Homo sapiens: one gene and its partners. The protein of the gene in region 1 purifies or fractionates together with the protein of each later gene. This does not show direct contact. Each region holds a gene or a part of one and is shown in the gene's direction. Other genes may lie near its edges.

Region 1 (8,274 bases):
ATGATGACATCATGCTGATCCGCCTGCCCAGGCAGGCACGTCTGAGTCCTGCTGTGCAGCCCCTCAACCTCAGCCAGACCTGTGTCTCCCCAGGCATGCAGTGTCTCATCTCAGGCTGGGGGGCCGTGTCCAGCCCCAAGGGTATGACCTGGCCCAGAACTCTCTCTGAAACTTGCTCCCTCACCCCTCTGTCTCTGCCTTTTCATCTCTGTCTTCTCCTTTTCTCTCTCCTCTCTCTCTCTGTCAGTCTATCTATCTGCCAATCGATATATTTAACCAAATATAAGATGCTAGCATTTTTAAGATGTGCCATTATTTCATGAACTGCGAAGAAGTGGAAGAAGGAGGAGGAGGAGAAGAAAAAAAGGAGGAGGAGGAAAGATCCCATTAGATCCCATTGATTATATAACACCATTTTCTGGAAGACACATTCTAATTTCAGAGTGTTTGTTTGTTTGTTTGTTTGTTTGTTTTTGAGACAGGGTCTCGCTTTGTTGCTCAGGCTGGAGTGCAGCGGTGTGATCACGGCTCATTGCAGCTTTGAACTCCTGGGCTCAAGTGATCCTCTCGCCTCAACCTCCCAAGTAGCTGGGATTACAGATATGCACCACCACATCCCACACCGGGGTCATTTTTTTATTATTTATTATTATTATTATTATTATCTTTTTTTTTGTATTTTTAGTAGAGACAGAGGTTTCACCATATTGGCCAGGCTGGTCTCAAATTCCTGACCTGGTGATCTGCCCGCCTTGGACTCCCAAAGTGCTGGGAAAACAGGCATGAGCCACTGCACCCAGCCAAAATTCTAGTCTTTTTTAAATCTAGTCATATCTTAGATTTAATTCAGATAATGTTAGAATCCTGGAGTTTTTTGATCCAGGGGAATCTGGAATGTTAGAATCTTGGATTCATAAAACTCTAAACGTTGAGCCTCTAGATTCTAGAATCATGGATACTAGTGTGTCAGAATCTGAGAATTCTAGAATCTTAGATTCTGGGCATTCTAATAGTATCCTGGAATCCACCTGATGCAGGAATCCTCTCTCCATTGCCTCTGAAAAGTGACCATCCATACTGTTCCAATTTTCTTCCCTCCATGAATAAAGCACTGATTCTGGTAAAAGATGCTGGGTGGGAATTTCCCATCATGCATTGCTCCATGATGGGACCTCCTTTAACTTAAGCCTTATGCTAAAAATTTTTATTATTTTTAGCAAAGATGAGGTCTTGCTATGTTGTCCAGGCTAGTCTCAAACTCCTGGCCTCCCAAAGTGCTGAGATTACAAGTGTGAGCCACTGTACCTGGCCCAGAGATGTTTAAATGTGAAATGCGTTCATCTTAGAATGGGAATAAGACCATGTCTCTCAGAGTCACGGATCACTGACCCATTAGCCAAATTGGGTCAGTGGATTGGAAAAACAGTCTGAATTTGTTGCTGCCAATATCTAAAACTTGGAAAGTTTTATACAAAAGCCAGGTTTCTGGATTCACCTGAAAAAGTTTGAAGAACTCACATTCCCAAAATAGCAAGCATTGGGCTGAGTCAATGGAGGCTGCCCCCTTCAGCCAAGATAAGTTCTCTGATTCACTCCAATGGACCCAAATGGCTCCTGTCTCCCTGCACAGCCCCCGTCCCCGACTTCTGTTTACCAATTCTGTTTATCATATCCCTTGATGCATCGGAGCCTGCACCCATGTCTTATATAGATGCACATGTGTATTATATATCCATATCCACATCTATACTGACTACACTGTATCTGGTATCTCTGTCTATGTCTCTGTCTCCATCAGTGACCATCTTCCTGCAAATCTCTTTCCTTTTATCTCACTGCCTTCATTCCACCCCTTGAGGTCTGGGTCTTTTTCTATTTCTTTTTTTTTTTTTTTTAAGAGACTGAGTCTTGCTCTTGTTGCCCAGGCTGGAGTGCAGTGGTGTGATCTCGGCTCACTGCAACCTCCACCTCCTGGGTTTTAAGTGATCCTCCTGCCTCAGCCTCCCGAGTAGCTGGGACTACAGGTGTGCAACAGCATGCCCAGCTGATTTTTTGTATTTTCAGTAGAGACGGAGTTTCACCATGTTGGCCAGGATGGTCTCAATCTCTTGACCTTGTGATCCGCCCGCCTCAGCCTCCCAAAGTGCTAGGGAGTTATATATGCATCTCCTCTTATCTCTTGGCTCTCTGCATGCATCTTTCTGTTTCTCTTCCTTCCTTTCTTTTTTTTTTTTTTTTTTTTTTTTTTTTTTTTTTTTTTGAGACGGAGTCTTGCTCTGTCTCCCAGGCTGGAGTGCAGTGACCAGTCTCGGCTCACTGCAACCTCCACCTCCCAGGTTCAAGTGATTCTCGTGCCTCAGCCTCCCGAGTAGCTGGGATTACAGGCGCCTGCCACCATGCCTGGCTAATTTTTGTATATTTAGCAGAGATGGGGTTTCACCATGTTGGCTGGGCTGGTCTCAAACTCCTGACCTCAAGCGATCCGCCGGCCTCGGCCTCCAAAACACTGGGATTACAGGCATGAGCCACGGTGCCCGGCCAGCCTCTCTCTCTACTTGGCCCTCTTCCTCCTTGTCTCCATTTGTTTCTCTTGTGTGCTATGACTGTCTGTCTGTCACTGTCTCTTGTCTCTATCTTTGAGAGTCCTAAATGTGGCTCCATTGGTCCTTTGGAAAAGCTGCAGGGAGGACTCAGGGCAGTGGGGTGCTGAGTGTGTTGGAGACAGTTGCAGATCCTTGACAGTTCTCTTCCCTGACAGCGCTGTTTCCAGTCACACTGCAGTGTGCCAACATCAGCATCCTGGAGAACAAACTCTGTCACTGGGCATACCCTGGACACATCTCGGACAGCATGCTCTGTGCGGGCCTGTGGGAGGGGGGCCGAGGTTCCTGCCAGGTGAGACCTTACTCTGGGGAAAATGAGGCTGTCCTGCCAAGTTTTCTAGGATTTAGGGGAGCAGAGGGGTCGGCCCCCAGCCTTCCTGGGTCAAAATGAGAAGGAGACTGGGATACCTGGTTCCTGGGAGAGGACGGGACCAGGGCCTGGACTCCTTAGTGTAAAAGAGAAAAGGTCTGGAGGTCCAGACTTCTGGATCTACAGGAGGAGTGGGCTGGGCGTCCAGAGTCTGAGTCCTCGGGGAGGAGGAGGTTAGGTCCTGCGGGGAGGTGGGCCCTCTGAGCTTTTACTCCTGGGTCTGAGGAAGAAGAGGCTGGAGATGGAGGACTCTCGGATGTTGGAGGAGGAAGGGGCTGGGGCCTTTCTGGGAGGGAGGAAGTGGCCCGTGTAATTGTCATGAACAGAGTGGCCTAACAGTTCCTCTGCCCTTCTCTCGCGTACAGGGTGACTCTGGGGGCCCCCTGGTTTGCAATGGAACCTTGGCAGGCGTGGTGTCTGGGGGTGCTGAGCCCTGCTCCAGACCCCGGCGCCCCGCAGTCTACACCAGCGTATGCCACTACCTTGACTGGATCCAAGAAATCATGGAGAACTGAGCCCGCGCGCCACGGGGGCACCTTGGAAGACCAAGAGAGGCCGAAGGGCACGGGGTAGGGGGTTCTCGTAGGGTCCCAGCCTCAATGGTTCCCGCCCTGGACCTCCAGCTGCCCTGACTCCCCTCTGGACACTAAGACTCCGCCCCTGAGGCTCCGCCCCCTCACGAGGTCAAGCAAGACACAGTCGCGCCCCCTCGGAACGGAGCAGGGACACGCCCTTCAGAGCCCGTCTCTATGACGTCACCGACAGCCATCACCTCCTTCTTGGAACAGCACAGCCTGTGGCTCCGCCCCAAGGAACCACTTACACAAAATAGCTCCGCCCCTCGGAACTTTGCCCAGTGGGACTTCCCCTCGGGACTCCACCCCTTGTGGCCCCGCCTCCTTCACCAGAGATCTCGCCCCTCGTGATGTCAGGGGCGCAGTAGCTCCGCCCACGTGGAGCTCGGGCGGTGTAGAGCTCAGCCCCTTGTGGCCCCGTCCTGGGCGTGTGCTGGGTTTGAATCCTGGCGGAGACCTGGGGGGAAATTGAGGGAGGGTCTGGATACCTTTAGAGCCAATGCAACGGATGATTTTTCAGTAAACGCGGGAAACCTCACCTTCTTTCTGCCTGAGCTGTGAGATGAGTGGAGAGCAAACGGGTGGGCGGTGAAGGGCAGATGAGGGAACCGGTACCGCCTTGCAACTCCCCCTTAAACCCCTAGTAAGTTTTGCCTAAAGTCTCTGTCCATCAGCCCTATTGCAGCAAGACTCCTGGGTTCTGCTTGGGTTGGTCTTGCCGCCTCCAGGGGAAGGGGAAACCAGGTCACAGTGCCTCCCAAACCTGCCCTCCCAGATCCCGGACCTCTCAGGGGACAGCGGGCGGGGCCTGATCCACCCTCTGGTTTCTGACCCTAGAAGACCTGCCTTTCTTCGGTTCCCGGTTACTGGCAGCAGCCCCCTCCTCCCACAAAAGATCAGGTTCCAAGCTTCTCCTTTTAAAAGTACTTAGAATTCAGCCCCCAGCTCTCTCCTCCCTCACACCCAGGAATCCAGGCCCCTAGCCCCTCCTCCCTCAGACCCAGGAGTCCTGGCCCCTAGCAGCCCCCTCCTCCCTCAGACCCAGGAGTCTGGGCCCCCAGCCCCTCCTCGGTCAGACCTAAATCCCAGGTCCCAGTCCCTCCTCCCTTAGATTTAGGAGTCCAGGCCCCCAGCCTCTCCTCCCTCAGACCCAGGAATCCAGGCCCCCAGCCTCCTCCCCTCTCAGAACTAAAATCTTGGCCCCCAGCCCTTTATGTTTCAGATCGTAGAGTCTCAGCACCGAGTCCCTCCTCTCCCTAGCCTCAGGAGTCTGAGATTCCAGCCCCTCCTCCCTCAAGATTTCACGTTCAATCCCCTCCGCCCCTTCTCACTCACACCCAGTGTTCCAGTTCCCAGAAGCTCCCCAGGCTCTAGTGCAGGAGGAGAAGGAGGAGGAGCAGGAGGTGGAGATTCCCAGTTAAAAGGCTCCAGAATCGTGTACCAGGCAGAGAACTGAAGTACTGGGGCCTCCTCCACTGGGTCCGAATCAGTAGGTGACCCCGCCCCTGGATTCTGGAAGGTGAGGTGCAGAGGTACTCAGATACAGACATCAGGCCCCGGACCCTCCTTCTCCAGATTCCAGGACCCCAGCCTCAGATGCCCTTCTCTGTCGAGATCCAGCAGTCTGGACCCCGGCTTCCTCCTCTCCCTAATTTAGGAGTCCCAGCTCCCAGCTCCCTGTCCCCTCAGACCCAGACATCGAGGACTCCCCCCTCCCTTGGAATGTAGGAATCCAGTCCCCCAGCCTCCTCCTTCCTCCAGAGAAGCCCAGAACAGCCCCAGATACTCTCGGCTGCCTCCCCAGTGCCCAAATCCAGAACTGGGAGCTCAGGCTCCTCCTTCCTGTTTACCGGCCCCGCCCTCTCCATTTCCCAGACCTCACCATGGGACGCCCCCGACCTCGTGCGGCCAAGACGTGGATGTTCCTGCTCTTGCTGGGGGGAGCCTGGGCAGGTGAGGAGGGTTGCGGAGGCCTCCGGAGGGGAGGGATCTGAAGGCAGCAGTGGCGCTGGGGAGTCTGTGGGAATGCCGCGGGGGTTATGTGGGTGCGTGTGCACGGATGTGAAGAGTGCGATACGGTGCAGGAGCCTCTGTGGGCTTTCCTCAGGGTGGACAGAGGCAAGAAACAGGTAGCAGCAGGTAGGAGTAGGTTCCGTGATGCTGTAAATTGTCTGAATAGCTACAGCCTTTGGGGGCTGCTTGCTTGGGGGCATAGATTCACCTGGGAGTACTCGGGGCCTGTAGACTCATGTGGAAGCATGTGGGGGCATTCTTGGGTGTGTGACTCTTGTATGATGACACATGGACTGAAATGAGTGTCCCCGTGTGGCAGCGTGTGGAAGCCTGGACCTCCTCACTAAGTTGTATGCGGAGAACTTGCCGTGTGTCCATTTGAACCCACAGTGGCCTTCCCAGCCCTCGCACTGCCCCAGAGGGTGGCGATCCAACCCTCTCCCTCCTGCTGCAGGACACTCCAGGGCACAGGAGGACAAGGTGCTGGGGGGTCATGAGTGCCAACCCCATTCGCAGCCTTGGCAGGCGGCCTTGTTCCAGGGCCAGCAACTACTCTGTGGCGGTGTCCTTGTAGGTGGCAACTGGGTCCTTACAGCTGCCCACTGTAAAAAACCGTGAGTGGATGATGGGGGCAGAGGTCAGCTGGGGCTTAAGGAAAGAGGGGGCTGGGGTTTCGACTCAGGAAGGAGAGAGCTGAGGACTGGACTCCTGGGTCTGAAGGAGGAGGGGGCTGGGGGCAATACCCCTGCCTGGGTCCCAAACTATCCCCACCATTACAGGAAATACACAGTACGCCTGGGAGACCACAGCCTACAGAATAAAGATGGCCCAGAGCAAGAAATACCTGTGGTTCAGTCCATCCCACACCCCTGCTACAACAGCAGCGATGTGGAGGACCACAACCATGATCTGATGCTTCTTCAACTGCGTGACCAGGCATCCCTGGGGTCCAAAGTGAAGCCCATCAGCCTGGCAGATCATTGCACCCAGCCTGGCCAGAAGTGCACCGTCTCAGGCTGGGGCACTGTCACCAGTCCCCGAGGTAGTGGGCTTGTCCACTAATGGGAGGGAGAGGAGGAGCTGGTTGGCCCAGTGGAACCCAAGCTATTGGCAAAGCTTGGTCCCCCAGAGGGAGACAAAGAAGGGAAAGTGATCATGATGTTGAGATTCACAAGCAGGAGTCATATGAGAAGCCTCGAAGATCTGACTACTAACAAGAGTGGTGAGAGAAAGAACCAACTAGCAGATTGTTAAGCAGGGCCAGAAAAGCCCATCCTGTATGGCGGAGAGCACTACCCTATGGGACCTTTGGTTGTATAGGATTTTATATAATCTTAACACACTTGGGATATTTGGACTTCTCAGAGGCCCAGGAAAACAGGCTCCTAAGCACCTTCTCCCCCACCTCCCTCCTTTTTTTTTTTTTTTTTTTTTTTTTTTTTTTTTTTTTTTTTGCAGGGGGACACAGTTTCACTCAATCGCCCAGGCTGGAGTGCAGTGGCACAATCTCAGCTCACTACAATCTCTGCCTCCTGGGTTTAAGCGATTCTCGAACCTCAGCCTCCCGAGTAGCTGGGATTACAGGCACCCGCCACCACGCGAGCTAATTTTTGTATTTGTTGTAGAGACAGGGTTTCGCCATGTTGACCAGGCTGGTCTCGAACTCCTGACCTCAAGTGATCTGCCCGCCTCGGCCTACCAAAGTGCTGGGATTACAAGCATGAGCCACCGCCCCTGGCCTTTTTCTCCTTCTTGAACCCAGGAAACCTGGGCCCTGGTCACCTCTTCCCTCAGACCCGGGAGTCTAGGCCCTTCTTCTCCCAGGACCCAGCAGTCCTAGCTCCCTCTTGACTCTGGACCCCAAAATCTGGACCTCCAATGAAGCTGTCCCTTTGGGACTCCAGAATCCAGAGAGCCCCTCGCCTTCCTTCACAGTGAAAACATTGGGACTCACCTAAGAGAGTCAAGGAGCTTCTCCAGGAAGTGGCAAAGTCAGCATTCAGGTCCCTGCCTGCCTCACTCCTGCTCTGAATGCTTTGGATGAGACAGTTTGCGGCTGTGGAAACACACGTGCTCGCAAATCAAGTAGATCAGTTCAAACTATGGCTCTGCCCTTTCTCCCTGGGCAAATTCCTTTCCATCTCTGAGCCTCACTTTCCTTATCTGCAAAATGGGAATCATTAACCAATAGATTTTTTAGCTACGTGAGGGTTCAGGTTACATCAGTTTTCTTCATTGTGTTCTCCTAGTGCTCAGAATGGTGCCTGCTACATGGTAGATGCTCAATAAATATTTGTTGAATGGATGACCTGATGAATAAATAATGAAATGAATGAATGCATCTCTCCTTCAAAGCGCTGTTGTGAGGATTAAATGAGATTATGAGCATATTGCTTTTGGCACGTAGAGATGCCAGATGGAAGTTTTTCCCCCTCAAAGAGGCTTTGGAGAAGTCTATTCCTCAAAAGAGGTTAATAAAAAAGATCAATTCCACCTTCAATCATTAATTCAACTCTTATTTACTGAGCACCTAGTATGCCTGAGGTGCTGTTGCAGGCGCTGGATATACAGCCATGAGCAAACTGTACAAAGTCCTTGTCGTTATGGAGTTGCAAGCTAGGTGGGAGAAATAGACAATAAACAAATACACATAAAATAAAACATTAGGCAAAGTGCTGTAAGGAAATATTGTGGAGCGTAAAAGGATAGGGAG
Region 2 (7,509 bases), on another chromosome or scaffold:
AGAACTCTTATTAGATGAATGTTGGATCTGTTGGACTGGCCCTTTAATTTTTTTTTTTTTTTTGAAATGAAGTTTCGCTCTTGTCCGCCAGGCTGGAGTGCAATGGCACGATCTTGGCTCACTGCAACCTCTGCTTCTTGAGTTCAAGCGATTCTCCTGCCTCAGCCTCCCGAGTAGCTGGGATTACAGGCATGTGCCACCATGCCTGGCTACTTTTTGTATTTTTAGTAGAGGTGGGGTTTCACCATGTTGGCCAGGCTGGTCTTGAACTCCTGACCTCAAGTGATCCGCATGCCTCAGCCTCCCAAAGTCCTAGAATTACAGGCGTGAGCCACCACACCTGGCCAGCCCTTTAATTTTTTTAAAAGTCAGGTTTATGGAGGTATAATTTACACAGAGTAAAATTAAACTTTGTTAGTGTACAGTTCTATGAATTTTGACAAAAGCATACAGTTGTGTAACTACCACCACAGGCAACACATAAACCCTCTCTACAAAGAACTACAACTTCTTGTAGTTCACTCCCTCTCCTCACCCTTCTCTGGCAGCTGCTGATATGTTTTCTGTCATTATAGTTTTGCCTTTTCCAACATGTCATAAAATGGAATCATATATATAATATATAACCTTTTGAAAAGTCTGGCTTCTTCCACTTAGTATTATGCATTTAGAATTCAACCAAGTTGCATGTATCAGTAGTTCATTCCTTTTTATTGCTGAGTAGAATTCCACTGTGGATATATATACACAGTTTGCTTATTCTTCTATTGATGGACACTTGAGTAATTTTCAGTCTGAGACAATATGAAGAAAGCTACTCTATACATTAAGGTACAGATTTTTGTATGGACATATGTTTGCATTTCTCTTGGGTAAAGTCAATATCAAAGAGTAGGATTTACTGTGTTATGTCGTATGTGTTTAACTTTGTAAGTTATGTGCCAAACTATTTTCCAAAGTGTATCATTCTGCTTTTCCAACAGCAATGGATGAGAGCTTCAACTGCCCCACACCCTTCCCTGCACAGTATTGTCAGTTTCCTTCATTCTAATAGGTACATGCTGGTGTCTCATTGTGGTTTTAACTTATATATCTCCCTAATGACTAATGATGTTGACAATCTTTTCATGTGCTTATTTGCCATGTATGTAACTTCTTTGAAGTGGCTTTTCAAACCTTTTGCCCATTTTTAAAGTAGGATTGTTTTTGTTTTTAGTTGGGAAGTTTCTTTATATATTCTGGATAGAAGTTCTGTTTTTTGTTTTTGTTTTTGTTTTTTTTGAGACAGGGTCTCACTCTGTCACCCAGACTAGAGTCAGGCTAGAGTGCAGTGGCATGATCTTGGCTCACTGAAACCTCCACCTCCTGGGCTCAAGGGATTCTCCCACCCTGTCTCCAGAGTAGCTGGGACCACAGGCATGCGCCACCACATCTGGCTAATGTATGTATTTTTTGTAGAGACAGGGTTTTGCCATGTTGCCCAGGCTGGTCTTGGAACACCTGGGTTCAAGCAATCCGCCCACCTGGGCCTCCCAGAGTGCTGAGATGGATTACAGGCATGATAAGTCCTTTATCGGATATGTTTTGCATATATTCTCTCAAACTACAACTTGTCTTTTTTCAACAGTACTTTTCAAATAATAGACATTTTCAACTTTGATTAACCTAATTTATCAATTTTTGTTTGTTTGTTTGTTTTTGAGACGGAGGCTTGCTCTGTCGCCTGGGCTGGAGTGCAGTGGTGCCATCTCGGCTCACTGCAAGCTCCACCTCTCAGGCTCACGCCATTCTCCTGCCTCAGCCTCCCGAGTAGCTGGGACTACAGGCGCCCACCACCACGCCAGGCTAATTTTTTTTTGTATTTTTAGTAGAGATGGGGTTTCACCATGTTAGCCAGGATGGTCTCGACCTCCCGATCTTGGGATCCGCCCACCTCGGCCTCCCAAAGTGCTGGGATTACAGGCGTGAGCCACCGCGCCCGGCCTAATTTATCAATTTTTAGATGATTAGTTCTTTTTGTGTTCCAAGATATACACCTTATCCAAGGCCACAAAGATTTTCTCCTGTGTTCTCTAGAAGTCTTATAGTTTTAAATTTTACATTTATGTCTGTAATCCATTTTCCATTTTGAGTTAAATTTTTTCTAATAAGGGGTATGCATTGAGGTTCATCTTTTTTTTTTTGAGGCGGAGTCTGGCTCTGTCTCCCAGGCTGGAGTGCAGTGGCGCAATCTCAGCTCACTGCAACCCCTCGCCTCCGGGGTTCAAGCAATTCTCCTGCCTCAGCTTCCCTAGTAGCTGGGATTACAGGCACCCACCACTATGCCCAGCTAATTTTTGTATTTTTAGTAGAGACAGGGTTTCACCATATTGGCCAGGCTGGTCTCAAACTGCTGACCTCATGATCTGCCCGCCTCGGCCTCCCAAAGTGCTTGATTACAGGCGTGAGCCACCGTGCCTGGCCGAGGTTCATCTGTTCATCTTTTTCACAGAGATGTCTTTTTTTTTTTTTTTTTGAGACAAAGTCTTGCTCTTGTCCCCCAGGTTGGAGTGCAGTGGCGTGATCTCAGCTCACTGCAACCTCCACCTCCCAGGTTCAAGCGATTCTCCTGCCTTAGTCCCCCGAGTAGCTGGGATTACAGGCGCCTGCCACCAAGCCTGGCTACTTTTGGTATTTTTAGTAGAGACAGGGTTTCACCATGTTGGCCAGGCTGGTCTCAAACCCCTGACCTCAGGTGATCCATCCGCCTTGGCCTCCCAAAGTGCTGGGATTACAGGCGTGAACCACCACTCCTGGCCAGAGCTGTCTTAATTGTTCCAGCACCATTCGTTTAAAAGTCCTTTGGTTTTCTTTTTTCTTCTGTTTTTCATCTTTGTCTCTTTTTTTTTTCTTTCTTTCTTTCTATATTTCCTGGGAGATTTTCTCAAGTACTGTCTGGTATATTTCATTTTCACTTCTACTTTCTTATTTTTAATTTCAGGAACTTTTTTCTTCTTCCTTTACTGTTCCTTTTTTACAGACAATACCCTGTACGGCTTTCATGGTCATAATATCCTCATCATTTGGAGGATATTTTTCTTCTTCTCTCTGCTCAGTCTCTGTTTCATGTGAGGCGTGTTTTATCCATATATTTCAGTGTCTACTTTTTTGTGATGACTGTTTCTCAGATGTCTGTAATCCTTGCTTGGCCACTCATATTTAAGAGTGAGTGACTAAAAAGTTGAGTGGAAGCTGTAAACACATGAGTGGGGCTTGTCTATTCTGACCTTAACTATATATCTTTAGTGGTCTATGTCAGCATCCTGAGAACTTTCCTCCCGGTCTGGCCAGATTTTGCAGAGAGGGATCCTCTAAACTCCTGCCTAGATGGTGGAGGTCTGACTCAGTGTTCTGGAATCTAGGTGGAGGAAAGGGTGAGGGAGGTCTCAGGACCCAGAATACCTGCTTCCACTTAATGCTTCTGTTTTCATTATGGCATCCCCTCCCTTAACTGTGGTCCTTATCCATTTGAGCATTTCTCATGCCTAACCTGGCAGGCATTGTTAACTGAGTAAATGAACTGTGTAGTTTGTTATTTGTTGCAAAGAAACTTTTGATCATTCACTCTCAATATGTAAATATCTATTTAGAAATTGCATACTTTACTGTTTTATTAAATATATTATGTACATTGTAAAGCAAATAAAAAAGTAATAAAGGCTGAGATAAAAATGAAATAATGCTTTCCTGTGCTTGTGTGTGCTGGCTTCATATTTTTATTAGCCAATATCTCAAGGCACAATATACACTTAGAAAAAAAACACATCATTAGTCAACGTAGAGATAAATATGTGTTTCAAGTAGTTCTGAGAGGTTTTTTGTTTTTTTAATTATTATTTTTTAAATTTTTATGTATTTATTTTTTGAGACAGAGTCTCACTCTGTCGCCCAGGCTGGAGTGCAGTGGCGCAATCTCGGCTCACTGCAAGCTCCACCTCCTGGGTTCACGCCATTCTCCTGCCTCAGCTTCCCGAGTAGCTGGGACTACAGGCGCCCACCACCATGCCCAGCTAATTTTTTTGTATTTTTTTGGTAGAGATGAGGTTTCACCGTGTTAGCCAGGATGGTCTCGATCTTCTGACCTCGTGATCCGCCCGCCTCGGCCTCCCAAAGTGCTGGGATTACAGGCATGACCCACAGCACCCGGCCTGTTTTTTTTATTTTTTAGTTCTGAGAGTTTTGACTATTTTAACTAACTTCTTGTTAGGTCAGTTTTGTTGTTGTTGTTGTTGTTGTTTGTTGTTGTTGTTGTTTTTGAAATAGAGTCTTACTTTGTCACCCAGGCTGGAATGCAGTGGTGTGTACATGGCTCACTGCACCCTTGACCTCCCAGGCTCATGCAGTCCTCCCACCTCAGCCTTGCAAGTAGCTGGGACTACAGGTGTGCACCACCACACCTGGCAAATTTTTGTATGTTTTGTAGACATAGGGTTTCACCATGTTGCTCAGGGCAGTCTCAAGTTCCTGAGCTCAAGCTATCACCTGCCTTGGCCTTCCAAAGTGCTGGGATTATAGGCATGAGCCACTGCACCCGGCCATTCAGGTCAGGTTAAATTGTCATTGTTTTAACCTATTAATGTGCCTAAGAGGGTTTGTTAGGAGTAGGTAGCTTTGACATTTTCTTTTTGGCTTGAGTTTGCATCATAGAGTTATCTTTTGGATAGAACAGAAACTCATAATAATGAATCCAGTGATAATAAAAACTCAGGTATGAAATGATTAACTCTTGCTGTTTTTAGCAGGCCCAAACTAGCCATTTTATTAACCTTACAACAACAAATTCCTGCATTTTATGAAACAGAATCTTGAGACCCTATTATTATGACATTATGGTGAGATTAAAGTGTACAGTTCACTGATGGTTGGTGTATTCAGAAGTGTGTAGCTTATATCACAGTCAATTTTAGAACATTTTCATCACCCCAAAAGGAAACTCTGTACACATTAGCAGTTACTCCCTGTTTCCCTACAAACTCCCCAGCTCTAGGCAATCACTAATCTACTTTCTGTCTCTTTAGATTTGCCTCTTTTAAACATTTCATATAAATGGGAACATACGGTATGTGATCCTTTGTGACTGGCTCCTTTTATTTAGTATAATGAACTAAGGTTCATTAGTTGTAGCATGTATCAGTACTTTATTCCTTATTGTTGCCAAATAATATTCCATTGTGTGGATATACCACATTTTATTTATCCACTTATCAATTTCTGGACATTTGGATTATTTCTACTTTTTAGCTACTATGAATAATACTGCTTTTGATTAATGTACAAGTTTTTGTGTGGACATATAGTTTCAATACTCGGGTATATATCTAGAAGTGGGACTGCTGGATTATATAGTAATTCTGTATTTAACTTTTGAGAAAGTGCCAGGATGTTTTCCAAAGCAGCTGCATCATTAATCTTTAAGATTAATATTGTCTATGAAATAATATGTCTTTTTTTATTTTTTATTTTTTGGAGACAAGAGTCTCGCACTGTCTCCCAGGCTGGAGTGCAGTGGCACCATCTCGGCTCACTGCAACCTCTGCCTCCCGGGTTTAAGCGATTCTCATGCCTCAGCTTCCTAAGTAGGTGGGATTACAAGCACGTGCCACCATGCCCAGCCAATTTTTCATATTTCAGTAGAGATGGGGTTTCATCATGTTGCCCACAGTGCTCTCGAACTCCTGAGCTCAGGCAATCCATCCATCTCGGCCTCCCAAAGTACTAGGATTACAGGCGTGAGCCATCACATCTGGCCATATGTATATATATGTGTGTGTGTGTGTGTGTATGTATATATGTGTGTGTGTGTATATATGTGTGTATTTTTTTTAATAGAGATGGGGTCTCATTCTGTCACCCAGGCTGGAATGCAGTGGCAAGATCATAGCACACTGTAACCTGGAACTCCTGGGCTCAAGCAATCCTCCCACCTCAGCCTCCCTGGTAGCTGGGACTATGGGCACATACCACCATGCCCAGCTAATATATTTATTTATTTTATTTTAAAATTTATTTAAATTTATTATTTATTTATGTATTTATTTTTATTTATTTATTTATTTTGAGACGGAGTCTCACTCTGCTGCCAAGGCTGGAGTGCAGTGGCACCATGTCGGCTCACTGCAACCTCTGTCTCCTGGGTTCAAGTAATTCTCCTGCCTCAGCCTCCTGAGTAGCTGGGATTACAGGCACCCACCACCATGCCCAGCTAGTTTTTATATTTTTAGTAGAGACAGGTTTTCACCATGTTGGCCAGTCTGGTCTCGAACTCCTGACCTCAGGTGATCCACCTGCCTCGGCCTCCCAAAGTGCTGGGATTACAGGCGTGAGCCACCACACCCGGTCTATTTATTTATTTATTTTTAAGACAGAGTCTCACTCTGTTGCCCAAGCTGGAGTGCAATGGTGTGATCTTGGCTCACTGCAACCTCCAACTCCCAGGTTCAAGTGATTCTCCTGCCTCAGCCTCCTGCGCCACCACACCTGGCTAATTTTTTTTATATTTTTTTAGTAGAGACAGGGTTTTACCATGTTGGTCAGGCTGGTCTCGAACTCCTGACCTCAGGTGATCAGCCTGCCTCAGCCTCCCAAAGCTCTGGGATTACAGGAATGAGCCACCATGCCCAGCCTATTTATTTATTTTTTAGGAGATGGGGTCTCACTATGTTACCCAGGCTTGTCTCGAACTCCATGAGTTCCAAGGATCCTCCCTCCTCGGCCTCCAAAAGTGCTGGGATTCAAGTCACAAGCCACCATGCCCTGTCAATATTTTTATTTTTAATCTTTATAGAGGTGGAGTCTCACTATGTTGCCCAGGCTTGTCTCAAACTCCTGGCCTCAAGGGAGCCTCCCATTTCAGCCTCCCAAAGTGCTGGGATTACAGGTGTGAGCCACTGTGCCCAGCTGTTTTTTTTTTTTTAAAGTTCTAGGGTGCATGTGCAGGATGTGCATGTTTGTTACATAGGTAAACATGTACCATGGTGGTTTGCTGCACCTATCAACCCATCACCTAAGTATTAAGCCCCACATGTATTAGCTCTTTTTCCTAATGCTGTCCCCCACTGCCCTCCCCCATTAGTGTATTCTTTATCCTTCAGAATTAGTGAAGGATTTTTACTGCTTTATAATGATTTCTTTTTTTTTTTGTTTGTTTTTCAGTCGGCTTTCTCCAGTTGAATGGTTTCCTTTTTGTTAAGTTGCTTTTTTCTAATCTCTTTAATGTGTTCCCTTTCTTTTTCCTCTTTCCCAACACCAAAGCAGAAAGGGACCAGAAACTTCTTGTCCATTTCCATGAATAGAAATGGGAGGCTGGGCGCGGTGGCTTATGCCTGTAATCCCAGCACTTCGGGAGGCCGAGGCGGGCAGATCACGAGGTCAGGAGATCGAGACCATCCTGGCTAACACGGTGAAACCCCGTCTCTACTAAAAATATAAAAAGTTAGTCGGGCATGGTGGCAGGCGCCTGTAGTCCCAGCT
Region 3 (7,757 bases), on another chromosome or scaffold:
AAAAGAACAACAAAATTGCCAAACTCTTTTTTGGTTCCATATGGAATTTAAAGTAGTTTTTTCCAATTCTGTGAAGAAAGTCAATGGTAGCTTGACTGGTCATTAGAGAAATGCAAATCAAAACCACAATGAGATAACATCTCACGCCAGTTAGAATGGCAATCATTAAAAAGTCAGGAAACAGTGGCACGTGCCTGTAATCCCAGCTACTCGGGAGGCTGAGGGAGGATAACTGCTTGAGCCCAGGAGATGGAGGTTGCAGTGAGCTGAGATCATGCCACTGCACTGGAGCCTGGCCCACAGAGCGAGACTCTGTCTCAAAAAAAAAAAAAAAGGAAACAACAGATGCTAGAGAGGATGTGGAGAAATAGGAACACTTTTACACTGTTGGTGGGAGTGTAAATTAGTTCAAGCATTGTGGAAGACAGTGTGGTGATTCCTCAAGGATCTTGAACCAGAAATACCATTTGACCCAGCAATCCTATTACTGGGTGTATACCCAAAGGATCATAAATCATTATACTATAAAGACACATGCACACATATGTTTATTGCAGCACTGTTCACAATAGCAAAGACTTGGAACCAACCCAAATGCCCATCAGTGACAGACTGTGTAAAGAAAATGTGGTACATATACACCATGGAATACTATGCAGCCATAAAGAAGGATGAGTGCATGTCCTTTGCAGAGACATGAATGAAGCTGGAAACCATCATTCTCAGCAAACTAACAGAAGAACAGAAAACCAAACACCACATGTTCTGACTCATAAGTGGGAGTTGAACAATGAGAACACATGGACACAGGGAGGGGAACATCACACACCGGGGCCTGTTGGGGGGTGGAGGGGTAGGGGAGGGATAGCATTAGAAAAAATACCTAATGTAGGTGACAGGTTGATGGGTGCAGCACATCACCATGGCGCGTGTATACCTATGCAACAAACCTGCATGTTCGGCACATGTATCCCAGAACTTACTATTTAAAATAAATAAATAAATAAATAAAAACTATTAGGACTAATAAGCAAGTTCAGCAAGGTTGGAGGATATAAAATCAATATGCAAAAATTAATTCCATTTTATAAACTTGCAAGGAGCAATCTAAAAATGAAATTAAGAAAACAATTCCATTCACAATAGCATCATAAATAACAAAATACTTGAAGTACAAAACTTATACACTGAACACTATGAAACATTGTTAAAACAAGTTTTAAAAACCTAAATAAATGGAATGATATCCATCTTGTGCTCATGGATTGAAAGACTTAATTTTAATAAGACAGCAACACTCTCCAAATTGATCTACAGAGTCAAATCAATACCTATTAGCATTCCAACTGCCTTATTTGCAGAAACTGATAAGCTGTTCTTAAAATTCATATGAAATTGCAAAGGGCTCCAAATAACCAAAACAATCTTTGAAAAGATTGGATCCTCCACAGTAGGAGGACTCACACTTTCTGATTTCAGAACTTTCTACAAAGCTACAACAGTCAAGAGAGTGTCATACCAGCATAAGGGCAGACATATAGACCAATGTGTATTGACCATTTCATTTCCTCTTCTGGGAATTGTCTCTTTATATACTTTGTATTTTTTATGTGTAATCTTTTATCATTGCCTTACTGTTTTAAAACAAATCAGCTTTATTAACATAGAAATAGAAAGTCCAAAAATACATCCATACATCCATGGTCAATTGATTTTCCAGAGTGTCAAAATCATTCCATAGAGAAAGAATAGTATCCTCAATAGAGTGCTGGGATAGCTGGATATCCACATGCAAAGGAATGAATTTGAACCCCTTCCTCACACCATGCATAAAAACGAACACAAAATGGATCATAGACCTAAATGAATGAACTACAACTATAAAACTCTTAGAAGAAAGAATGAGTAAACCTTCATGACCTTGGATTGGGCAAAGTATTCTTAGACATGACACCAGAAGCATGAGCAACAAAATAGAAACTCGATAAATTGTACTTCTTAAAAATCTAACTTTGTTTTTCAAAGGACACCCTCAAGAAAGTGAAAAAAAAGAACACACTGAATTGGAGAAAATATTTGCAAATCATATATGTGATAAAGGACTTGTGTCTAGCATATATAAAGAACTCTTATAACTCAATAATACAAAGACTAGTAATCCAGTTTAAAAATGGGCAAAAGATCTAAGTCAATATTTTTCCAAGGAAGATACACAAATGGCCAATAAGAATGTAAAAATATGCTTGAAGTCATCAGTCGTTAGGGAAATGCAAATCAAACTAGAATAAAGTACCACTTCACATCCATGTTAGAGAGAATGTGGAGAAATTGGAACCCCATAGGCTGCCAGTGGGATGTAATATGGTACAGCCACTGTGAAAAAGTCAGGCATTTCATCAAAGGGTTAAACATAGAGTTGCCACAGGACTGAGGAATTCCGTTCTTAGGTATAAATCCCAAAAAACTGAAAACAGATATTAAAAAAAAAAACCTGGCACATGAATATTCGATGGTAGGATTATTTAGAATAGCCAAAAGGTGGGAACAACCCAAATGTCCCTCAATGAATGAATGGATAAACAAGATATGGTCTATCCATATGATGGAATAGTATTCAGCCACAAAAAGGAATGAAGTACTGATACTTGCTACAGTGTGAATGAACCTTGAAAACATTATGCTAAGTGAAAGCAGCCAGTCACAAAAATGCACATATTATATGATTTCATGTATATGAAATGTTCAGAATAGGGAAATTTATAGAGACAGAAAGTACATTAATGGTTGCCAAAGGCTGGAGGAACATGGGATAGAGAGATGATAGCTAAAAGGTTCTGGGTTCCTTTTTTTAAAAAATATATATACATATTTTATTATACTTTTAGTTCTAGGGTACCTGTGCAGAACGTGCAGGTTTGTTACATATGTATACGTGTGCCATGTTGGTGTGCTGCACCCATTAACTCGTCATTTACATTTACATTAGGTAAATGTAATCCCTCCTAATGCTATCCCTCCCCCCTCCCCCCACCCCTCTGGGTTACTTTTTGAAGTGATAAAAATGTTATAAAATTAACTGTGGTGATAGTTGTATATATCTGTGAGTATATTAAAAACCTATGCTAAGAATTGTTCACTTTAAATGGGTGAATTGTACAGTATGTGAATTTTCATGTTAATGAAGCTGATTTTTTTTAAAGAGTAAGGCAACGATAAAAGATTACACATAGAAGGCCGGGCGCGGTGGCTCACGCCTGTAATCCCAGCACTTTGGGAGGCCGAGGCGGGCAGATCACAAGGTCAGGAGATCGAGACCATCCTGGCTAATACAGTGTAACCTTATCTCTACTAAAAATACAAAAAATTAGCCGGGCGTGGTGGCGGGCACCTGTAGTCCCACCTACTCGGGAGGCTGAGGCAGGAGAATGGCATGAACCCGGGAGGTAGAGGTTGCAGTGGGCCGAGATCGCGCCACTGCACTCCAGCCTGGGCGACAGAGAGAGACTCTGTCTCAAAAAAAAAATAAAATAAAATTACACATAAAAAATACAAAGGATATGAAGAGACAATTCCCAGAAGAGGAAATGAAATGGTCAATACACAAGACTTGGTATTGACCTCATCAGTAGTCAGAGAAATGTAAAAATAAAGCAATGAGACATATTTTTATTTAACTAAATTCTATTGAGAAGAATTAAGAAAGAATAAAACATACATATGATGCTTGAAATAATGCAGAGCGATGGTCTTTTCACACATTGCTGGGTAGAATTTAAACTGTTAAATAGTTTTGGAAAGTAGAATGCCCATGTCCGTTAAATTTAAAATACTTATACTCTTTGAATTCATGGCCCCTTTTTTAAGACTGTAGCTCACAGAAATAAAATACTTGTGGCTACACTTTAAAATAAGTTATGACAAAAGGGAAATTAGGTGGAAATGGAAAGATATTTATGTTGCTTTATTAATTGCAAAAAGCAATTATTAATTGAAAGTAAGGCCCCAGTTTAATTTTTGTAAAAACAAACAGCAATAAATGCATATAGGAATACAAACACATATAATATTTGTGTGTTTATGTGAGCATGGAAACACTTGTAGACTAATATATAATTATGTGCCTTCCCTTTTTTGTGCAGTTTTGTATTGCTTTGCTAGTTTCAATGAAAAGGTATGACATTGGCAGTTTGAACGACAGAGAACAGTTTTAATGAACAGAGGGTGGGTGGGGTAGTTAGAAAGGGAGGGATCGCGCTAATGTTGCAGCCATTTTGTGTGCGCTCCTCTTACAGATAGTGCGGCGGCCCAGGCGTCGCGTCTACGCGGGGGATTACAGTAACCCGGTTGTCAGTGATGAGTCAGAGTGCGTGGTGCTGATGCTGCTGCCATTTCATCACCTTTGCGAGCGCAGCATCCATCCCTCCGCTCTCCCGGCGCCTGGGCCTACCCAGCTTCGGGCTCCCAGGCCAGCGATGCGCTCGCGGCTGAGCTAGATCCTGCCGAGCCGCGCTCTCTGAGGCGTCGGCGGGGCGCCCCCTCCCGCCGTCCCCGGTCCGGGCCAAGGAGACCTGCAGAGCCGCGGCCATGGAGGCCATCTGGCTGTACCAGTTCCGGCTCATTGTCATCGGGGATTCCACAGTGGGCAAGTCCTGCCTGATCCGCCGCTTCACCGAGGGTCGCTTTGCCCAGGTTTCTGACCCCACCGTGGGGGTGGATTTTTTCTCCCGCTTGGTGGAGATCGAGCCAGGAAAACGCATCAAGCTCCAGATCTGGGATACCGCGGGTCAAGAGAGGTTCAGGTGGGAGCGCAGTCCGGGCCCGCAAGCAGTGGGAGGGTCTTCGGGGTTTGCACCGCCTCTGGGGAGAGAGGACTTCCTGGTTCTAGGTGCGGTCCAGGAGGGCAACACCAAGGGTCTTGAGGATTCTGCCGAAGCCCACCTTCGGCTAACCCGGAGTTTAGTGCAAGGAAAGAAGCGCCCTGGCAGGGAAGGCCGGTCAATAACACATATTGCTTGCACCACAACTCCACCAACCTGCCCTTTGGTGGCTAACAAACTAGCTGGAATTGATCTCTGTATCTGTAATTCATCAATCTCAGTCCCTATGTTACATACTTTCAAAAACGTTCCCAGGTCATCCTAACATAACTGACAGAGATTTAAATACATAAATACATGTGTATTATGTTTTATTTCCACATCTGTGTGTGTGCACATATATATGCTAACATATGTTCTAACATGAAATAGATACGATTGATTCCTTCTTGCAACCAGCACACATTCAGTGATCATCTACTATGTGCCAGACTCTGGGCTTGTTCCTGGGAAAACAGTGTGAGGAGACTCACACAAGGGGATGCCATGTAATCTAAACAGACAAAGCCCCTTCATTCTTGGAACTTCTGTGCTAACATAGTTGAGGGAAATAGATAATCAGCAATTACGAAAGTGTGTCTTGCTCATATTTGTATGCCCACTCCCTACTGTAACACTTGGCACAAAATGAACATGCTTAATTTCAATCAATGAATTCATTGAATAATCAATGAATATGTTTACTTTCACTCAGAACCCTTTGCTTTTCTATTGTAGCATGTATTATTTGTAATTATATGTATGAACACAGAGGAGGAAAGGTTAACTGGAGAAGATGAGACCGGATGAGTATGACTGCCTAAGCAAAGACAGGAAACGCCCAGGGATAGGAAACAGCATGAATAAAGACAGAAGTGAGAGGGAGCAGAGTGTACACAGAAAACTTTGCAGAGAACAATTTGAACTAAAGTAGAGCAGCAGGAACCAGATCAAGAAAACTCAATAGCCCAAGTTTATGATCATTTACTCATTTATCTATTGAAAACTAACTAAGCATAGAAGATACTGGTTGGGTAATTGAAGAGGGGTAAGGAGAAGAAATAATTACAAACTTAAGTTACCTCCAGCTCCCCACTTCCACAAACACCACTGTGGAAAATATCCTTGTACAGGTTCACTTTGAACTTGCGATTGCATTTCTCCTAAGCAAAGAAAGGTATCTTTTATGTGTTTGTTGGAATTTCTTTCTATATGAACAGCCTGTTCATATCCACTGCTTATTTATTTATTGGGCAATATGGACTTGTAAGAGTACTTTATAGATTAAGAATATTAACCCTTTCCTGTCATGTATGTTGTAAGATATATTCCTAGTTTATCATCTGTCTTTTCACATTATTTAAGATTTTTTAATGTAGGGAAGAATTTAAGGTTTATGTAGCCTTATGTCCATGCTTAGAAGGCCTTTGTCACTTTCTTTGCTAAGTACTCACAAACAATTAATGTAATAATATATTCCAGAGTTTTGACAGTGATCTACAGCTTGCTTGTTGATTTCTTGAATCAACCTTCTCACAAATCAAAACCTTTGTTTGTTCATGTCTAAATTTTCTGGTAAATCTACCATTCTCCATGAATCTTCAAACCTAAGAGACGAGAAATGCTTTCAGTCCCCAGGGCTGATTTGCCTGATTTTGGAGACTTAAAGTCATTTGTAAGTTTTACTTTTACCATCATCTAGCTTGGACTGTAGGTCCCTGGACAATGCTTGTTCTGCTAACATTGAGCCATTTTCTCTAAGCTATTGAGTCCTTCGTTGTCTATCTTCTTTATCTGAGGAGACAGAAAACCTAAAAATAGACATAGGTAAAAAAAATCACAGTAGTCTAAAGCAAGTGACTGCAGAGACAAATAGGTCCATACCCTGTAATAAGCTTTAATACACTGTAAGCAAAGTGCCATAATGTATATTTATAATGAGGTTCCTCAAGTCAAGAAGTTAAAACATGTGAAGTTTCTTCTGATGGCTCCTGAGTTGAGTTGGCCTCTCTGAAATGTGTCAGGAAACAGGGCTGAGAGGCACTTTGCCTGAACCCTTCGCCATCTCTCTTTTTCCCATTCCCACAGGCCTTGAAAATAAAAAATAAAATTGTGTTTCTCCTCACAGAAGAGATTGAGGATCCCTGTTAGCTAATAATAATAATAATAATAATAATAAACAATAATAATAATGGAAAGAGAAAAAAACATGGTAATGATAAATGGAAAAAATGGAGTAGCAAGATACCTACTTTAAATATTTTGTTAACTATCATAAATTCATTTCTATGTTTTAAAAATCCTGTTTCAACTGCTAGCATTTGTAATGAACTCTCCACGTCACAGAACACTTTAATATCCATTGTTTCATTTTGCCTCATGGTAACACTGTGACTTGGGTATCCTATTTTGCAGAAAAGGAAGTCTCTGTCAGTTATTCAGATTTGGGGGGTGGGAGAGTTAGTTGTAGTTTTACCTGAAGGCAAGAAATAGAACTCAGTTATGTCCCAGGGTCACTCTCCAGTGCTGAATCCATGGAAAATGCCTAAAAGTTCATGAACATTCGTTTCTAGAAGATGCCCATCTCAAAGTTTGGCCCAATTGGAAACTCACATATTAGTAGTAGTATGGAATGCCATTTGTATTCCTTTGTTTTTTTAAAAAAAAAGAAAATCATTTTTATTAAAGGACTGTGTCACTAACCAGGAACACTTGAATATACTGAGTTCATTGACATGCAGAAGTTTGGGCACAGCCTTTACTCTTTACTTCTTTCTTGTGTTTTAGATCCATCACTCGCGCCTACTACAGGAACTCAGTAGGTGGTCTTCTCTTATTTGACATTACCAACCGCAGGTCCTTCCAGAATGTCCATGAGTGGTTAGAAGAGACCAAAGTACA
Region 4 (7,000 bases), on another chromosome or scaffold:
TTTTTTTTTTTTTTTGAGACAGAGTCCCGCTCTGTCGCCCAGGCTGGAGTGCAGTGGTGGCTCTCTGCAACCTCTGCCTCCTGGGTTCAAGCGATTCTCCTGTCTCAGCTTCCCAAGTAGCTGGGACTACAGGCATGTGCCACCACACCTGGCTAATTGTTTGTATTTTTGGTAGAAAGGGGGTTTCACCGTGTTAGCCAGGATGGTCTTGATCTCCTGACCTCATGAACCGCCAAACCTCAGCTTCCCAAAGTGCTGGGATTACAGGTGTGAGCCACCGCGCCCGGCCGATAGGTGTGTCTTATGACTGAGTTCCAGGGACAGCTGGAGAAGGTGATACCCTCAGCTTTCCTGAAGCCCCCTCTAGGGGTGTGGGAAGGGCTGACTGCTTAGGTCAGTACCTTACTGTGCAGTGACAAACCAGAGGGCTCCAGAGGTGGGTGGGTCCCTGTAAAAATCTTCAGCCCGGGCGAGTAAAGGGCTGAGCAAGTCCCCTGAGAATGTCAGTGCCAGATTCACCATGTCGGCGAGTTGCAACGTGAAGGAGGCCGGGGTCCTGGGGACCCCGAGGGGCAAAGCTGGGCCAGCATGAAGAAACTTCAGGAGACAGGTGTGTTCTCATTAGAAAGAGGCCAGGCTTTAGAGGCCAGACCCAGTGGCTCACACCTGTAATCCCAGCACTTTGGGAGGCAGAGGTGGGCGGATCACTTGAGGTCAGGAGTTCGAGATCAGCCTGGCCAACATGGTGAAAACCCATTTCTATTTAAAATACAAAAATTAGCCAGGCGTGGTGGTGGGCACCTGTAATCCCAGCTACCTGGGGGGCTGAGGCACAAGAATTGCTTGAACCCAGAAGGCTGAGGTTTCAGTGAGCTGAGATCGCGCCACTGCACTCCAGTGTGGGCGACACAGTGAGACTCTGTCTCAAAAAGAAAGAAAAAACAAGGGCAGGCTTCAAATCTGACCATCCTGAGTTTGGGGATAGCCTCTCCTACGTGCTGTGTGACCTTGGCCAAGTCATACCACCTCTGAAAGCCTCAGTTTCTCTGTCTTGAAATGGGCATAACCTCATCTAGTCCAGTACCTGTCCATTAAATTAATTGACACATGAAAAGTGCCTAACAGTGGGTTCCAAATGAGAATTGTCAAGGGATGACTTGAGAACCATGGGGATCATCGGGGTAGGAGGCCTCGGGGGCCTGACGGGCTATGGCCTGGCCCAGGGCACAAGCCCTCTGCATCGTCAGGGCGGATGATACACAGGTCTTTGGTGTTTCATTTTTACCCACTTAACCACCCTAACAAATTCAGAATCCTGCCAGCGATCTGGCTACCTTGGGAGACCTGAGTAAACCAAAGCCCCCACTGTGTGCAGGTGTTGACATTCATCATTTCGGGGACAGGTACTGGGTGTCCACCCACCCGTGGCACTATCTTCAGCTCATCTTAATATGTGCTTGTTGCTTCTCCTGCCTTTCCTGATCAATTTCTGTGAGTTTCGATCCACTGGGGTGGGTGAACTCTGATAACTCCACAAAGTGACATGGTGGTGGCACGTTTGCTTCACATTGGGGCAATCATGTTCCAACGACTAGACTTCATAGAACAATTGTCTGCACCCCCAGCACAGAAGAAAAATAGGGACATCATGGCTACCTTAGAGGTATTTTTCCACTGGGAACCAGGGATGGGTAAGCCTTGGGCTTAGGAAAAATTAGTAATTAGAGCAGCAATGCCCTAGACTCATTTATTCCAGGGCCCCTTTGTAAGAGAACCTTTTAACTTTATATAAAACTAGGTAATTCTGCACTTATGCTGTTCTTCATACGTCAAGACAGCAAAATCCTCTCACCTCTCTACTTTCATGTATACTTTGAATAGATAATGCATTCAAATGACTCAACACTCAAGTGCCAGAGTGGAGAGATGTCCAGTGAAAAGCTTCCTCCGCCTCTGTCCCTTTCTTGTCTGGGGGAGTCCCCATTGCCTGTTTCTTGGTAGCCTTCAGAGAGTCTGTTCATATGAGGGACATGCATATTTATCCTCCCTCCCCCACCTCTTCTACAAATGGTGCCACATCATACCATGCGGACACGCAGCAAGCACCTCATCCTTCATTTTTGTGGCTACATAAATGTTTCGTTGAACGGATGCAGCCTAGTAATGTCCGCGTTGTCATACCCACTGTCGCTTCCGCAGCTGGTGTGATTGGCCCGTGCCATGTGCCTTCATGAACAGTTGTGATAATGGCAATGTCAGTAGCGAACATGAGGGCAGATGTGCAGAGGCAGCGAGGCCCCATCTCTGAAGCTGAGTCTTTGAGGCTGGCAAGGCCCAGGCTGGCTCACCCTGGCTCTGACGCCAGCCTCCTCCACCCACCCCCCGCAGGCTGGGTGCTGGAGTGGCGCTGGCTGGCTGTGCTGGGCTGCGTGCCCCCCTCCCTCATGCTGCTTCTCATGTGCTTCATGCCCGAGACCCCGCGCTTCCTGCTGACTCAGCACAGGCGCCAGGAGGCCATGGCCGCCCTGCGGTTCCTGTGGGGCTCCGAGCAGGGCTGGGAAGACCCCCCCATCGGGGCTGAGCAGGTGAGAGGCTGGAAGGCAGAGCTGACAGGAGTGGGACAGCAGTCACGGGAGGGTAGCACAGCCTGTTCCCAAGGCCACACACTTGGGGGGTGGGGGACAGGGAGGTGCCTATCCACCCTCCACCCTCAGCGAGGACAGGCCCAGTGTGTCCTGTCTTTGAGCAGGCCAAGACAGCTGGAGCCCCACGGAGCTGGGCCCTGGCCTCCAAAGTCACCAGCAAAGCCCGAGCTTTGACCCTTACTGTCCCAGGAAGAGAATGGCCAGGCCTGGTGGGGGATACAGAGGCAGAGCTGAGGACTTGGATTTAACAAAGGAGTTGCAAGGCAGGGTAGAGGGCTAAAAGTCTGGGTTTTAGAGTCACCCAGGCATGGGTTTGAAGCCCCCACGCTGCCCCTCACCTAAGCTTTAGCTCTTCACCTGTGATGTGGGAGTCAGCACCTGCTTCACAGTGCTGGGTGGGACTCAGTGGGGGAAAGGAAGGCGGGGCTTAGGGAGGAGGGGGGCTCAGTGGGGAGGGTGGGGTCAGCGAGGAGGATGGGTTCAGTGGGGAGGGGAGGGTCAGGGCTGTAGGAGGTGCTTAGCTAGGGCCAGGCCCAGACCTGAGGCAGGTGCTGGATGTGTTGGTGGTGGCAGGGATGAGGGCAGCAGCTTGCTCTTTGCCCAGATTACCTCTTTGTGGCTCCCCCCCACCTATCAGGAAGTGCCCTGGGCAGGTGAGGGTCATCTCACCTGACACATGGGGAGGCTGGGACTTGTCTGCACACCTGAGGACACAGGGGGTGCTGGGATGAGGAGCCAAGACGTGGGAGTCAGCGCTCCCCAAGCCTTAGGACAGTAGACCCCCAGAGGGGGGCCGCTTGCGGGAGGGGAGAGAGAAATCCTGATGGCCAGTATCCGTCAGAGCAGAGCTTTCACCTGGCCCTGCTGCGGCAGCCCGGCATCTACAAGCCCTTCATCATCGGCGTCTCCCTGATGGCCTTCCAGCAGCTGTCGGGGGTCAACGCCGTCATGTTCTATGCAGAGACCATCTTTGAAGAGGCCAAGTTCAAGGTAAAAGGGCCCTGCCTGGCCTGCCTCGTCCAGCCCCCACATAGATGGAGCTTCCTCCCCAAGCCCAGGGCCCAGCCATCCAGCACAGGCCTGGAGAGGGAGGGACCCAGCTCTCAGCTGGCCCACCTGACCTGCCTGGGCTCTGTCTCCCCCAGGACAGCAGCCTGGCCTCGGTCGTCGTGGGTGTCATCCAGGTGCTGTTCACAGCTGTGGCGGCTCTCATCATGGACAGAGCAGGGCGGAGGCTGCTCCTGGTCTTGTCAGGTGAGGGTTCACCCCTGTGCAGCCTCCCCGCCATGCGGGGGAGGGCCTTCGCCAAGGCCACCACACTGCAGGAGGAGGACAGGGAGCATTTGTGATGACAAACATCATGGACTAATGCGGCCATGATTTGACAGCAGCTTGTCACCAAGCACTCACTGCAGGCCTGTCCATGCCAGTGGCACTCCCACACCACGCCTTTAACCTCTGTGGTGAACCCACCAGAAGGCACTCTCACAGCCCCAGCTTATGACGGGAAAACTGAGGGCCAGGAAGGTGAAGTGACTCAAGAGTTTGTGGGTCCTTTTGGACAAGTGACTTTACCTCTCTGAGCCTCAGTCTCCCCCTCTGGGAAGTGGGGGTAATGGCAGTGCCTCCCTCAGCACCATTTTGAGGAGTGGGAGGTGATCCACGTGAGGCCTTCAGCAAGAGCTGCGGCCCACGGACATTTGGTACCCAGCAGCTGCTGCGAAGACGACCGTCGGGGCTGAGGGTTACTCGCTGCTGCTTCTGTGCCGGTACCTCCCATTTCCTCGGCCCAGAGGGTCTGCTCCGGGAACTTTTTGCAGTTCGCTGAGGTCCAAGGCGGGGTGGCTGCCACCCAGTCAGGGCTTCTGCGGCCAAGGTGCCAGAACACCAAGCTGGCCGTTCTCTGGGAGCCGGGCCTGCCCCTCTCAGAGGCATCCAGGCCATGCTGCTGCGCCCTGGGCCGTTCCCCGGGTGCCCCGCCCACTGCCGCCCTCCCGCCTGCAGGTGTGGTCATGGTGTTCAGCACGAGTGCCTTCGGCGCCTACTTCAAGCTGACCCAGGGTGGCCCTGGCAACTCCTCGCACGTGGCCATCTCGGCGCCTGTCTCTGCACAGCCTGTTGATGCCAGCGTGGGGCTGGCCTGGCTGGCCGTGGGCAGCATGTGCCTCTTCATCGCCGGTAAGGGGGCCTGTGGGAGGCTGGGCGAGGAGTGGGAGGTGATCCCCCCGGCCCTGCTGTGGCGGCTCCCGGCAGGTGGGGTCTTCCCCAGCCTCACCTCTCCTCTCGTAAGTTCCAAGCTCTGCATTTCTAGCTCTGACCACATGCAGCTGTGGAACTAGGCCCCTCTGCGTTCCTTTCACTTAATCCCCTGAGCAGCCCTCGAGCAGGCCCCGTTGTGACCCCATCTCAGAGACAGAGCCTGTGCCTGAGGAGGGAAGAGGCTGGCCGAGGCCTTGGCAGGAAAGCATGGAGCTGGTGGGACCACACTGGGATCCGGGACCCCACAGCCCCACAGGCTGGGAAGCTGGGTCTCTTGGCTCTGCAGCAAGCTGAGGAGCCCAGCCCTGCGGACCCTGATGCCTGTCTTGCCTGTCTCGCTCCCACAGGCTTTGCGGTGGGCTGGGGGCCCATCCCCTGGCTCCTCATGTCAGAGATCTTCCCTCTGCATGTCAAGGGCGTGGCGACAGGCATCTGCGTCCTCACCAACTGGCTCATGGCCTTTCTCGTGACCAAGGAGTTCAGCAGCCTCATGGTGAGGGCAGGCTCCACCAGCACCGCGTTCGTGCAGTCAGCCGAGAAGCACTTTCTAAAACCACTTGTATTGCAGAAGACCCAGGGTCGTGGCCTTACATGCAGCCTGAGCCCCACCATGCCTGGGCCACTGGCCATCTTGGGCAAGGCGACGTGGAGGCAGATGGGCTAGGCCAGATGGGGAACCCAGGCTGTGACCCCTTGGGAGTCCTCTGCCTGTCTTGGCAGTCAGACAGCACAGCTGGCCTCTCCCCTTAGTGAACGTCAGGAAAGCGGGCCTTGAGCCTAAGGTCTTACATGGGAAGAGTTGACAGGGCTGGGCTGCAGCCCCACCCTGGCTACTTCCTTGCTGTGTGACCTTGGGTATGATGCTTACCTTCTCTGAGCCCGCTTCTTTGGCTGAAACTGGAGGAGAGTAACAGCAGCTTGCTCTTAAGACGGATGGGAGCATTAATTCAGTTCATCCTGTTGCTGCCTTCTCACGGATGGACTGGCACAGGTGTGGCCCCTGTCCCGGGGCTTCCCAGCCAACAGAGAGACAGTTCTGGGGTAGATGATCTGGTTGTTTGTTCAGTCATTTGTGCCCTCCAGGTCTCCTGGCATGTGCCATGTCCAGGCCCATTCAAGGCGCCAGGGAGAGCAATGAACAAGATGGACAGGGTCCCCTTTATGACAAGGACGGGAAAGGCCATGGCAGTGGTGGGAGAATGAACCCCAGTGGGGCTGGGTTAGGATGTGGTGGGGCGGGTCATGAGGGGCCAGCCTGGAGTCTGTGCAGAGCTTGGGACCCGCTTAGGCAGGACTGCCCGGGGAGCACATCGAGGGGGCCAGGCCGATGCCTGGGGGTGGAGATTACTTGCTGCAGCTGGGAGGGGATGCGCAGCAAAGGAAGGAGGAAAAGAAGCCAAGAAGGAGGTGACAAAGGACCTAACAGTCCTTTTTTAGGAGAGAAAATGTCCAAGAGGCCAAGAGAAGGCCTTCGAGGAGGGAGAGATCGCCAGGTCCCAGAGGACCAGGAGCTGAGAAGCACCTTTTTAGTTCTGGCACGTGGGAGGTCACAGTGGTGGTGGATGGCAGGGACAGGTTCTGACTGAAGGCCCCATGTGCTCCTGGGGCCATGCTCGCTTTGCCCTGTCTCACCCATTTCCACCACACTATGAAAGAACCCACCGGGGGCCTCAGGGTGGGGCCAAAGCTGAGGGTGGAGGGTTGGTCTGTGGGCCCTGGAGTCAGACCTGGAACAGGAGCCCAGCTGTCACTGGATAGCGGGTCTCTGGCCTTGAGGCAGTCACTTCATTGCTGTGAGCCTCAGTTTCCCCAGCCATACGACCTCGGTATCTTGGACAGTGCTCGGCCCAAGCCACCAGACTGGATGCCAGACTATCCTCCATGTCCCAGAGCTGGGTGGAGATAAAATGGGTGTGGCCTTGGGCAGGGCAGGCTGGGGTCAGGGGACTGGACCCCCTGGTGGCAGAGCTGTCTCAGTGATCGCGTGGGGCTTCCTGATCTCTCCCCGCGTCCACCCATGGCCTTTCCTCTCTCTGCAGGAGGTCCTCAGGCCCTATGGAGCCTTCTGGCTTGCCTCCGCTTTCTGCATCTTCAGT

The links.
Region 2: the proteins of KLK8 (region 1) and DDX19B purify together in Homo sapiens (affinity purification with mass spectrometry; 2 studies listed by BioGRID and IntAct, with this or other methods). This does not show direct contact.
Region 3: the proteins of KLK8 (region 1) and RAB39B purify together in Homo sapiens (affinity purification with mass spectrometry; 3 studies listed by BioGRID and IntAct, with this or other methods). This does not show direct contact.
Region 4: the proteins of KLK8 (region 1) and SLC2A8 purify together in Homo sapiens (affinity purification with mass spectrometry; 3 studies listed by BioGRID and IntAct, with this or other methods). This does not show direct contact.

What each region holds. Positions count from the first base shown.
Region 1 is NC_000019.10:50,998,325-51,006,598, reverse strand, and holds the start of KLK8 (kallikrein-8 isoform 1 preproprotein), read left to right. Parts: upstream 1-4,994; 5' UTR 4,995-5,067; intron 5,068-5,423; 5' UTR 5,424-5,431; coding exon 5,432-5,501; intron 5,502-5,880; coding exon of another isoform or gene 5,881-6,015; coding exon 6,016-6,175; intron 6,176-6,340; coding exon 6,341-6,603; intron 6,604-8,274. Other genes in the region: KLK9 (kallikrein-9 precursor), read left to right, coding at 1-141, 2,759-2,895, 3,339-3,488. UniProt on the Homo sapiens protein: Serine protease which is capable of degrading a number of proteins such as casein, fibrinogen, kininogen, fibronectin and collagen type IV. Also cleaves L1CAM in response to increased neural activity.
Region 2 is NC_000016.10:70,301,875-70,309,383, forward strand, and holds part of DDX19B (ATP-dependent RNA helicase DDX19B), read left to right. Parts: intron 1-7,509. UniProt on the Homo sapiens protein: ATP-dependent RNA helicase involved in mRNA export from the nucleus.
Region 3 is NC_000023.11:155,261,116-155,268,872, reverse strand, and holds the start of RAB39B (ras-related protein Rab-39B), read left to right. Parts: upstream 1-4,381; 5' UTR 4,382-4,584; coding exon 4,585-4,799; intron 4,800-7,643; coding exon 7,644-7,757. UniProt on the Homo sapiens protein: The small GTPases Rab are key regulators of intracellular membrane trafficking, from the formation of transport vesicles to their fusion with membranes.
Region 4 is NC_000009.12:127,400,169-127,407,168, forward strand, and holds part of SLC2A8 (solute carrier family 2, facilitated glucose transporter member 8), read left to right. Parts: intron 1-2,388; coding exon 2,389-2,585; intron 2,586-3,491; coding exon 3,492-3,635; intron 3,636-3,790; coding exon 3,791-3,899; intron 3,900-4,649; coding exon 4,650-4,823; intron 4,824-5,251; coding exon 5,252-5,397; intron 5,398-6,943; coding exon 6,944-7,000.